Linked DNA regions of Homo sapiens. The protein of the gene in region 2 interacts with the protein of the main gene of each other region in a biochemical or structural test. Each region holds a gene or a part of one and is shown on either strand. Other genes may lie near its edges.

Region 1 (6,012 bases), on a different chromosome or scaffold from region 2:
TGTTCTTTGTCAATTTGAGTTAATCGTTAGTGATATTTTGTATCCCTACGAATTTTCTGTCCAATTTTTCTTTAATTACTGAGATTGGAACGTTCAATATTCAATCATAATAATGGATTTGTCTAATTCTCTTCTCAGTTCTATCAGTTTTCGCTGCAATGCATATTGAAAATCTGTTCTTAGGTGTTATTCTTTGTCTTATTGACGAATTGACCCCTTTAGCATTATGAACTGTTCCACTTCATCCCTGGTGATGTTCACTGTTCTGAAGTCTTTTTTGTCTGACATTAATACAGACTTTCGGCGTTCATGTGATTGGTATATGCTTGGTATCTTCTTTCATCCTTTTGACTTCTTTGTTTTACTTTTTAGGAGTTGGTCTGCAGTTTATAGTATGCAGCTTAACTTTTCATCGTGTACTTTCAAATGATATCTACTTCACATGTAATTTAAGATTTTACAGTGTATACTACTTACATATTCCTTCTGCCTTTTTACTATTGTTGTCAGAGATTTTATTTCTATAGATGTTATAAATTGCACATACACTTAATATTTTTGCTTTAGTTTTAAAATTTTGCCAATGAGGAAAAAAAGTCTTTTATATTTATTCACATATTTACTTTTTCCAGCACTTATCCTTCCTTTGTATAGATCCAAGTTTCCATCTGGCATTATTTCTTTCATAGAGATCACTTTCTGTAGCTCTTCATGGTAGTCTTCTCAATTTTTGGTAGTTACAGCTTCCAATTTGAAAAATACTAGAATACATTATAAATGCCTTGCAAAAATCTTTCATAGTTTTAAGTTATTAAGTGAACAATATTATGGCTAGGAGGATTATTATGGATTTGTTGGTTGCTTTTGAAAGGTCTACCTGTTTTGTTTTGTTTTGTTTATTTTTGTGTTTGTTTTTCATCACACTTAGAAACTCCCATCAAGACTGAAGCAGACGTTTTGGCAGAAAACCAGGTTCTTGATAGCAGTGCTCCTAAGAGTCCAAGTCAAGATGTTAAAGCAACTGTTAGAAATTTTTCAGAAGCCAAGAGTGAGAACCGAAAGAAAAGCTTTGAAAAAACAAACCCTAAGAGGAAAAAAGATTATCACAACTATCAAACGTTATTCGAACCAAGAACACACCATCCATATCTCTTGGAAATGGTAAATTATTTTTCTTTAGGTTCTAATCTTTGTGTTCTCACATCATAAAGATAGAGCCACTGGGGTGTGTGTGTGTGTGTGTGTGTGTGTTTGTTTTAAGGTTACCAGAGACACATTGACCTTGGAGACTTTGTATCTTAATTCTGTAGCTACATTTGGCATATAGCTGGTATATTCAGTGAATGTGGAATAATGTAATTTTTACAACCACTTAAAATAAATTTAGGTTTCACTAGTTGGTAAGGAAGTATCTACTGAGGTTTATTGACTTTCTTTTAAGTTTCCAGTGAAAGCACAGCTAAAAGTACAATGGCAAGCTGAAGGGAAAAAAAGATTTTTAGTACAAATGTCTATTGAGAACCATACAGTAACAAAAAGGAAAGGCCTAAGGTTTTCTGACAATTCTCATTTGTTATCTTCTGGGATTGTCTTCCTTCCCTCCCTCCTCCACCTATTTTTTTTTTTTTTTTTTTTAAGAGTTGAGGTCTTGCTTTGTCACCCAAGCTGGAGTGTAGTGGCGTGATCATAGCTCACTGTGGCCTCGAATTCCTGGGCTCAAGTGATCCTACTGCCCCAGCCTCCCAAGTAGCTGGGACTATGGGCATGCACTACCATGCTAATTTTTTTTCTTTGTACACCTTTATTTATTTGTGTTTATTCTGTGCATTCGTGGCTTTATTCTCAGCATTATGTGCTCAAAAATCTAATAGCTTTCTTCAAATTATAAAGAGGAAGCAATGCATCTTCAAGTTCTCAGTAGTGGACATGAAGCTGTTTGAAAATCAAAGATTTTCATGTCTAAGCAATAGAAGTATTTTACATTTTTTAGTGGAGTTATAAAACTTGACATTCTGTGAAAAGTCTGTTTGGTTTTGACTTACAAGTTAAGTACTTATTTTGTAGCTAAAGTGTTCAGTGGCTACACTCTTGAGGTGCTACATGTAGCACAGTTGCTTCCTATTAAAATGGATCTGAAATATACGCTCCATTTTGTATACATAGTAAATTACATTTTAAAAAGTTACCTTATAATTGGTAAATTAAGTGAGCTTTCCACTGAAAGTTTCTGTATGATGTTTCTGAACTCTATCAATAACACCAGAAAATAAAATAAATTCCTTTTTGGCAAACTACATGTGATTCCTTGATTATGTGCTTGTTCTAAATACCAGGGATTTCTAGCTTTCTTTTAATTACAATAAGCACAAAAATGGAAAGTTATAAAAGTCAAGGAATGTTGGAAGTTTTTACTGCTATTTTCATTGTTACATGTAAATAGATGTACTTACCAATTTCTAGACTGCTTATGAATTTGGGTTTGGGCAATCCTCTTTGACATAATTTTAGATTAAAGAATTGCAGACTTTTTAGCCGGGCATGGTGGAGCATGCCTGTAATCCCAGCTACTCGGGAGGCTGAGGCAGGATAATTGCTTGAACCCGGGAGGCGGAGGTTATGGTGAGCTGAGATCGCATGATTGCACTCCAGCCTAGGCAACAAGAGTGGAACTCTGTCTCAAAAAAAAAAGAATCGCAGACGTTTAAACCTATTTTCCTGTCCTATGCTAGATACTCTTAGAGAGGACTCCAAATATAAGCGTTAGTACTGTTTAAAAAGCTAGATTGTCTTGGCCGGGCATGGTGGCTCACGCCTGTAATCCCAGCACTTTGGGATGCCGAGGCGGGTGGATCACAAGGTCAGGAGATCGAGACCATCCTGGCTAACACGGTGAAACCCCGTTTCTACTAAAAATACAAAAAATTAGCCGGGCATGGTGGCGGGTGTCTGTAGTCCCAGCTACTCGGGAGGCTGAGGCAGGAGAATGGCGTGAACCCGGGAGGCGGAGCTTGCAGTGAGCTGAGATCCCGCCACTGCACTCCAGCCTGGGCAACAGAGCGAGACTCCGTCTCAAAATAAATAAATAAATAAAAAGCTAGATAGTCTTGATATAAATTAAAAGGACATGTTCTTGCATCGTTTTTTAGCAAAATAGTGAATATAATACATATTTCTTATTGTTCTGTCTTCTTTATATGGTGAGGGTACATGCAATATTTTAGATTGTATTTCCCAGATATAATTTATTTACTACCTCATCTTTTTTTAAATTGTGTTTTAGCTTCTAGCTCCGGACATTCGACATGAAAGAAATGTGATTTTGCAGTGTGTTCGGTACATCATCAAAAAAGACTTTTTTGGACTGGATACTAATTCTGCGAAAAGTAAAGATGTATAGGCATCTGGTGTTTCAGCATACATAACTGAAGCATGTGAAACAGTATCATCCTCGTTAGTAGAGGAAAACCAAAACCCTTTTTTCCGTCAAAATTGGATTTGTAATTAAATTGTAAGCCTCGTAGGATGTATGTTGGAATTTTAAGTCTTTCCTTTGGTTCTATGCAAATAAAAAAATAACTGATTTTTTAAGACTGTGTCTGTATTGTTGGGATTGAATCTAGTATTTGCTGGGAGAATTTTTTCTTTGTATTTATTTTAATGTATTGTTCTCATGTAAGAATGACTGATGTTGTGTTAGTTAAGAATTGAAGATAGGTTTAGCAGTAAAGAAGAAAGCTTTTAAAAGGATTGATTCAGCTAAGCAAAGTTGGGCAGAGAAATACAGCCATTTTGTTTTTAATGCAGAAAAGGAAGATGTTCTGTAGCAAGGGGGAATATTTTAAAAATAAACCAGATCAAATTAATACAATCAGAAGGTTTCGAAATGTAAATATTCCTTATTTAAGACATGTTTAAATTCACCTACTAGCACGACTTACATAGCTCAAATATTGAATGTTTAAAATATTAATACAGATGGGGCCTCTTTATGTTTAGATAAAATTGAAGTACTTAATTGAAGCTTTTTAAAAATTGTAAAGTAAATGAAAGCTATTGAGATCTTTTTGTCTCCTATAATACCAGGGAATTTGAGCTTGTGTTCTAGTCATTGTACTAGCTGTAGCTATTGGTCTGTCCTTTTGACATACAGCTAAAAGGGACTAAATTTGTAAAAAATTAGTTTGTTATAGTTGAAGATTAACTTTTCCTAACATTGTGATTATTGAAGTTCATGAATCTTGCTGTCAAGGAAGAAAGGTAAGAAAGCTGATAGCTCCTCCATGTTGGTAAAATCCTCTCCAGAATCTTGGAACACCTGGCATGTGACCCTAGTGACGTCACAGACCTGAGATGAAGATTCATGTTTAGCCAGTGTTTTCCAGCCTTGTACCCACCATACAGATCTGTTTATTCTGTTTCACCCTACTCCTCCAGTGAGCCCCATATTTTGGGAAATTATCTGCCTTATACATTAACTAATTCAATTCATGTAACACTGTTGAGTGCTTACTCTTTGTACCTCTATTGTGCCTATATTAAAGGTATACAAATAAATAAGGCCATGTCTGACTTCAAGGAACTCAGTTTAATTTTGATATATTCAAAGATGTGATTCCCAACCAACTCAGGATGAAGTAACTAGTGTTACAACTGAGTTGATATTCTAAAATATAACACAGTTTGTACTTTTATTACTAGTTAGCATACACATTTTATAGGCTTATGGGTTAATAAATGAATTCATGGACTCCTGGACTACTTTCATTGATGACCATATCTCCAGGGATGTTGTTGATCCCCACACTGCCTTAAGGTATATTATAGAAACAGTTTTATTTTCCATTTTTCTTGTTTCCTGATAATAAATGTATTTAGGACTGAAAATACTCCTGAGTACTCCCTTGGCTGTATGTCTGACAGTCTTTAGCTATGGTGACTATTGTTTATTTTTAATGGGTATTTCAGATTCCAAGTGTATTTAAAATTTCTAAGGAGATATAATATAGCCTGTATGGTTTCTACTTTATGGAATTATATGGTCAATATTTGTAAATATTCTATGAGTTTTGGGTGGGTAGAGGGGTGCTTTGCCTGTTTTGGGTACAGGTTTTTTTGGATTTAGCTTGTTAATTGTTCAAACTTTCTGCCTTCTACATTCCTATCTTATTGTTCGTTTAATCAGTTTCTGAAATGTAAGCATTACATGACTATTGGTGAGTTGTGCCTTTTATAACTGAAATACTTTACTTTTTCTCATATCCTCTATAATTGACTTCTATTTTCCTTAATCAAACCAGCTCTGGGAAATTTAATACATTTATATTAATTGAGATTATTAAAACATTTGGACTATTCCTGGCTGTCTTACTTTGTATTTTCTATATATCATGCTCTCTTGTTTTTATTTTGTCATCTTACTGGCTTGTTATTTTTTTCTCCTTGTTATTCCTCCAGTGGTTTGGAAGTAATTAAACCTATTGCTATTTCTTTAGTGATTACCTTTTTTCTTTAAGTTTAGAGTTAATTAGTAGCCACATCTTCCATCCATCTCCCAATTAAGTCAGTAACCTTAGCATTGTTTCACTTCCCCACCTCAGCCTCTTTTTGTGATGTAATCAGATACGATTTTAGTTTTAGATTAATCCCTGGGATCTTGGTGCGTATGTGTAAATAGTTATTAGGCCACTGTGAGTTTTACTGTTTTCTTCTGATTGCTTTCTCTTGCATCCCAGGATTAGTTTTCTGGTGTGCTGCTGCATATCTTCAAGTAATTAAATGTTGAATCTTCAATTTAAAGTTTTTTAAATTGAGTTATGGTTTTAGACTCAAAATCATTTTCCTTTGGAATTTTGAAGCTATAACAATCATTTGCTGTTATCCAGTATTGTTGATTAAAGTCACACCAATCCGATTACCTCTCTTTATTTATTGATAAGTAACCTATTTTTTCCTCATGAAAAACTTTTGGGGTTTTCTTTTTATGCTTGGAGTCCTAAAATTTCACCAATTTGT
Region 2 (7,003 bases):
AAAGTGGTCAAGTCTTAATAGTAGCCGCGAATGACTATCAAGACTTTAAATTTAGACTGTACATTCGGGGCAATCCAACCATGAGTCATGTTGACATGTGCTTGGGGATAGAACACGCCCACGAATCCCGGCAATAATGTCGTCTGCTCCCCACGTCCTGCCCTACCACAGCTCCCTCCAAACTGCTGACATTTTTACCACAGTTATAGAAAGAAAATTAATGAACATTCCTAGTCTGGGCACACATCTTAACATCCATCCCCTCTCCAATTATAAAATTAAAAGCAACCACTGTAAATTCCCCACGTTTAGCAAAATGAAGAGCTATGGAGAGGAGTGAGCGCTTAAGCCACCTCAAGTAGAATATCCTTGTTGTCACACTAAGAAGCTGGTTCCCACGGAAACACATTGATTTACCCCATTGCTACTGATTGGCTTAGTGTAATCTGAAAATGGACTCCTACAAGGATCAAATTGTCCTGGTCCACACAGTAAAGCAAAGCTGAGATTACTTGCTAAACATTGCTCTAAAAAACAAAAGGCTGCCTATTTTCAAACAAACTCTACATTTAATGTATCTTATTGGCCTTAAAAGAAAAAAAAGAGATGTAACTCCTCTGGCAGTGATGTCATCTTTTATTTTCTGCCCTCCTTGACTGAGAGTGGGCTGAGGTTGTGAGAACAGCCCTCTGGCCTGGAGTCCCTCTGCCTCCTCCACCCCTCCCAGACATGCCTCAGCCAGGTGTGTGGCAGGGCTGGCTGGGGAAGGTAGGCCCAGCTCTAGCTGCGGAACTGGAGCAGGCTGTGGAGGCACAGAAGTGGCAGGGAAACACTCAAGTTTGTCGTTGTGCAGGTGCCTCTGCAATGCATTCCCTGGCTTGAGCAATGGAAGATCAAACCGGCATGGTTCCCTACTGTGCCCACAGCCGGGGGGTTGTTTTTGTCAGTCCTTGGAGAAGAGTATTTGATGCATTCAGGGAGGGCAATGTCAGGCTCGCTGACATCCTCTCCAGCTCCCAGGACAGGCTGTGGAAAGAGGAAGGGGCTGAGGTCGGTGAGTTGTTCTCAGGGTTGCTCAATGAAGATTTGCCCCCAGGAGGAAGCCAGGGTGATGAATGCAGGAGGAATCTGTTCCAACAACCCCCTTCCCCCAAAAAAAACAACCAGACTCAAGATGCTGATAAGAATTCTTTTATGTTATTCCAATAAAAAATACATTCATACAGAAATATAACAATCTTGCAAAAAACAATTTCAAATAAAATCTTGTAAAACAAAATTTTACAAAAATCTTACAAAGATTCTTTAGATAACAGGGTGCTTCCAAAAAAAAAAAAAAAAGAAATTTCACTAATAGAAATTTTTTTTTAATTTCAAGCAAAAAGTTTCTGCTTGATTGAGGCTCAGTTATCACCTGAACAGAATGTACTTCTTTATGTACGTGCTAATTATGAAAATCACAGGCATTGACAGGTACGGTACCCAGCCCCACCCAGGCAAACAGCTCCGACATGTTTCGTAAGTGAGACAAGCCAGTGCAAGTTTTTTTTTTTCCTTTTTTTTTTTTTGTCTTTTGCTTACCTTCTTGCTTAATGGAATTGTTATGGCTAAGCACATAGAAGGCCAAAAAAGGAGTTTTCCAAACCCAGCAAATCAAGTGCTTGGATTCTGAACTGCCAAAAGAAAACTGCACTTCCCCTCTTAAGTAAAACGAAATGAGTTTCTTAGGTAAATGTATTCATCAGCCCAGATAAAAAAAAAACCAGTTATGTGAGCGTTAGTCACTGCTCATTTCCAGGAAGATCAAACAAAATACCAGCCCAGCCAGACTCACATGTGTGTATATATATATAAAGCAAAGAGCCACACCCACAAGCCAGCAGCTGGGTGAAATATCAGCTGTCCACGCCGTGGTATGCCAATTCGGGGAAATTACTCCTTGGAAAAACTGGAAGAATCTACTTGCTGGAAAAAATAGCTTCATCTGCATAAAAAGTGTTCTACAAAAGAATCCCTGTGGTTAGCTTACTCTTAGGTTAGATCTTCTAATAAGGCTGAAATTCAAAATCAAAACCTTAGTGTGTCCGAGTCCAGCCTGGGTTCCAGCATTCTGTTCAGGCCACTTCTGAACGGCCGAAGGTGCCCCATTCCAGACCTGCCCATTTGATGGACAGAGCAGACAGCCCGGAACAGATTCAAGCAAGAAAGTCCTCCGCACATCGTTAAATTAAAGATAAAGCCTCTATAAAAGTTAGGTTATGGTTTTCATTTTTACCTCCTTTATGGCCATTTTGAAATATTTCTTCACAGGCTGTGGAATTTTCTAGCTAAACATTCTAGTTTCTCCTTAAAAAAAATATTTATATATTATCTATATATATAATATATATATATACACACATACACATACTGTACACACAAATATACATACACAAGAATTCTGCCCACTTTTTTAAAAAAGTAGTATACTTTCTGTATTACCAACAGATAGCTAGACAGATATGTGAAACTTGTGCCTTTTAAGCAAATACATTAACATTGGGGGTTTTTTAATACTTCTGTATCTTTAATATGTGTGAAAATGTTACATATTAAATACAGCCGGTGTGTGATCTATACAATTGTTGTGCAAGGTCTATATGAAAGTCTCAAGGTGGCAGAATTGGTCAGATTTTTCCATTTTCCTGTTTTCCATTTTAACACTGACAGTCAAGTTGCCTAAAGTGTTGAACAAATACTGACATGTAAAGGGAGTTTCACTCTATGTCTTTGTGAAGGAGGACCTTAAAGAGATTTTTTTTCTGTATTATACGTTGATACAGTACACTGCCAGGTGAAACAAGAGCCTTAATAAAGCATGCATCGCCCACACCCCTGTATGAGACCCCCACAGAAGGGATCGCTTGCGTAAGGCACCATTATGAAGGTCAACAGTGCATTAACAGCTAGAAAACCAGAAATTAGTCCTCAAGGCATAAATAAGAGAAACATAGCTGCATGAGAAAACAGTTTCTAAGCGTTAGTGGTTTTATCCACCCAACTGAGAAAAATTTTAGGTTCTTAAGTCTAATGAAACATTAGACCAGCAATTCCCAGCCCCAGCTTTGTGACACTCAATACGTGTCCAATTTCTTCTAAGGGCATCACAGAATTCTCCAAAAAGTTAATTCAAATTCAGAATCATTTAAAAATAATCCTGTGTTGCACAATGCCTTTCTGGAAGGGGAGTGTTACAAACTTGGAGGGGAAAAAAAATTGTATATTGCCAGGCCCGGATGGCTAGGGGGTCACTGTATTAGACAGATTGGATCTTAGCTGCTCATTAACTGGAATCAGTATTGCAGTCCTGACTTAAAAATGGAAAAGCATATAGTTCCCCAGACCATGCATGACTTTTTGTATTCTAAGGAAAAGTTAAATTGTTGTGTTATATTTGTAAATACACAGCTTATACAATGGGTTACAAATGAGCTATGTTGTAGCGTGTAAAACAAGCTACTTGACACATTGCACATTTAATAGCTGCACCAGACACTAAGAGTTCCTCTCACACAGAAAAGGGGGAGAGAGGCTCTCCCTCCCCACACCACTCGCCACTCTGGGGTCCTGAGTTCCCACGCCCACCCTCCAAGATTTTCCTTCTTTTTTTGTTTTTGTTTTTTTGTTTTTTTGATTTTTCTTTTTTTTTCTAAGGTGCAGACACCCCCTCCCCCCAAGGAAATGATTGGTGGTCATCTCATCTCATGGTATACTCCTTACACACAAAACATTCAAACTACTTTTTTTCCATCTCTTGCAGTCTTGCTAACCACAAGGAAAAAAAGTTGGCCTCATCATACGGTCAGTAATAGATCCTCAACATACAATCAACCCAACCATTAGCATTCTCAGTGTGCATGCTCACGGCAAAGGCTTAGGCGCCGCTCGGAAGGGCGGGTACCAGTGGCGAGTCCAGGGTCACCCACATACCATGCACCACGGGTGCTATGCCGCTTCTTACAGGACCTTTTTAGCCCTCAAAAGACCTTCCAAGGAGAGGCCCTGGAGGCAACTGGGTAGGGTGCAGAACGGCATGCTTTGGCTGGAACACGCATCCCTCCTTCCACGGCCGGCTCTCAGCCTGGAAGCCTTTTAGCCTACAGGATCCACCTCTCTGCTCCCTCAGAGGTGCCTCTTCATGTGCAGGGCCAGGTGGTCAGACCTGGAAAAACACCTGCAAGGGCAAATCAGAAGCACAGAAGAAGTTAGGTTCCCATCCCTTGCCAGTGTTCTGGACCAGCGCCCTCACCTCCCTGCCCTGCCCAGCCTAACCCCCTGCAGGGAAAGGTGGGATTCTCCTCCCAAGCCTCATCAGTGTCTTCAGGGACAGGAGATACCAACTGATAGGAATGTGAATTAAGAATGTCCCCCACCAGTGGCTGGAGGTTCTTTGGAGAATCTGAACGGACTTCATTTCTAATTCTTCAAATATGAAAACTGTTGAAAGGCCAATCTCCAAACATATCAATAAACTGACTCCAATGTCAGGTGTATGTGGAACAGTTCTTCCTAACCATGGACAATGAGCACACCAGAAACTTTCTAAAAAGTCCCAGGCTTGAAAAGAAATGTTCACACATAGGAAACTGCATGCCTTCCTTCGAATGTGCCCTGCACACCTACTCAACCCTGGTCATCACATTCCCAAGGCCCCACGCTCCTTGCCCAGCATTGTCCTCAGGCACGTACCTGTCACAGTGGGAGCATTTAAAAGGCTTGGCCCCGGTGTGCTTTCGGAAGTGCCTGGTTAACTCATCACTTCTTGCAAAACGCCACTCACACCCTTCCCATGAGCATCTGTAAGGCTTTTCTCCTGGGGAGAGAGCACAGGACAAGCAGCCCATGACTTCACTGACCCGCAGACGGAAAGGGGAAATTCAACAACACACACAGTGGTGGGATGCAAGGCCAGGGACCCAGTGGCTTCTGGCATCGGTAACACACAACAACTGGCAGCCTCAGAGAGACAACAGCAGCTCTCTCCTGACCCAGTCTCAGGCCTCCCACTGCTGTCCAAGGGACACAGCTTCAGCCAAGCCCATGGTGCTGTCATCAAAGTTAACGTGGAAGAACGACCACGACTCAGACCAGCAAAATGCTTGCGGGATGAGGTGTCAGCCTGCCGGACCCACAGCCCCGGCAAAGGCAGAGCTATTGCTTTCTTCATGGCAACTGTTTCTCCCAAACACACTTCTGTTCCATCCTCACTTCCCTATGGAATGTGCCTCTGCAGTTTCCTCAGGGACGTTCTACCTTTCTACAAAGCTGAAGTTACGAGCTTCTGGAAAGCCCCAGTACAGGGCCCCGGAATCATTCTCTAAATGGCAATTGAACAACTGGGTTCACTTCATTCCTTGGTCAAATCATAAATATGAATTTACTACAAGTGCTACCTGAGAAAACAAAGTTGTCAAGCCAATCTCAGGGTATGTTGAGACAGGCCTGGGCCTGGATATTGGGCCACCCGGATCTCAATCTCAGCTGTCACCAAGCCTGTCTGGGACTGACTCTCAGCAATTTGCTCTCCTACTGATAAGAGAAGAGCCTGCATCACGTGATCACTAAGACCCTTCCCAGTTCTAAATGTTCTGTGATTCCTCACCAATTATCCTAGAACATGTCAAGGTATTTTTAAATAGCACTTTCACCTAGGTATGGCATTTCATTAAGAAACTGTTTCAAGCGGTATCAGAAACAAAGGCTGCATGAGACACGGAGAAGTTCTCAGGAAACACTCGCTGATCAATGCTGCTGCTTACAGAGCAGGCCGGTCCCACTCGGGCCTCGGGCCGTCAGCATCAAACCCACACACTCCACGCTGCCCAGCAACCCTCTGTCCTGACCCTTGAGTTTCATTTAGGAAACCCCAGGGCCGCTCGAGGTAGCCTCGTGCGAGTGCACTGGTGAAGGGGCAGTGGCCTCGGATCCCCAGCACTACTAAGGGGTGGGGGGTGGAGGTTTGGGTGTCCGTGGAGAAAAGGATCTAGTCTCTTGTTTGTTTAATCTGAAAATTGTTACACATTTATCCAACTCAAAAGTCCAGTCTTTAGGATTCTACTCTGAACTCCAAAAAGACCTAATGCTTTGGTGGAAAACATCTGAGGAAGTGAGGATTTGTCTGCCCTGACCACATCCTGTGCAGCCAGGCCCGGCTCCCTCCAGGGCTGGTGCAATGCAGTGGCGCCCACCAGCGGCCGCCCTCCGGGGCCCGCGTGGGCACTGACCTGTGTGCGTCCGCTGGTGTGCTTTCAAGTGGGAGCTTTTGGTGTAAACTTTCCTGCAGCCGTTAAAGTGGCACCGGTGCACCCTCCTCCTGCCGTCGGGGGAGGCATCGCCATTTCCCTTGTCACCTGGCTTCCCCGAAGTCCCGCTGCGCACCTTCCCTGGCGAGGGCAGCTCCCCGGGCACGCAACCCCACAGTTGAGAAGGTTCCCTGCTCAGTTCCGGAGAAGATGGAGGCGTGGAGGTGACAGAGGAGCTCAATTTTCCCGAGCTGACCAAAACTTCGCCAATGGGGTCGGAGGTAAACTTGGCCGTGGGAGAAAGTTCCTCGGAGCTGTCAGAGGATTCGCTGCTGACATCTGAGTTCAGGCTGTTGGTCTCTAAGTTGTAACAAAAGCTCGGGCTGATGAGAGTGTCCTCTGGAGGACTGGAAGATATCTTCAGTTCGGATTCCTCCTTTTTCTCCCGAGCCAGAATGATTTTGGTCCACAGATCTTCCTGGCTGTCAAATTTGATTTCTGAGGCTGAAACATAGCAGGGCTCGCTCTGGAGGTAACGTTCCAGCTCTAGGCAGGTCTGTGCAAAATGAACCAGAGAAGGCACGTGATTGCCATGACGACCAAAAGTAAAAGCAAAAGCAATTTCCAAAAACATGCAAGAATGAAGGACAGATAACATTGCTGCCCGGTCACTACAGGGGCAAAACCTTTTGTAATTAAGCATCCGTGTCCTTACGGAAGTT

Evidence for each region.
Region 1: the proteins of KLF6 (region 2) and NUFIP1 form a complex in vitro, tested with the Homo sapiens proteins (one study listed by BioGRID).

The regions. Positions count from the first base shown.
Region 1 is NC_000013.11:44,938,591-44,944,602, reverse strand, and holds the end of NUFIP1 (FMR1-interacting protein NUFIP1), read left to right. Parts: intron 1-928; coding exon 929-1,161; intron 1,162-3,280; coding exon 3,281-3,397; 3' UTR 3,398-5,354; downstream 5,355-6,012. UniProt on the Homo sapiens protein: Binds RNA.
Region 2 is NC_000010.11:3,775,378-3,782,380, forward strand, and holds the end of KLF6 (Krueppel-like factor 6), read right to left. Parts: intron 6,838-7,003; coding exon 6,264-6,837; intron 4,853-6,263; coding exon 4,729-4,852; intron 4,214-4,728; coding exon 4,162-4,213; 3' UTR 619-4,161; downstream 1-618.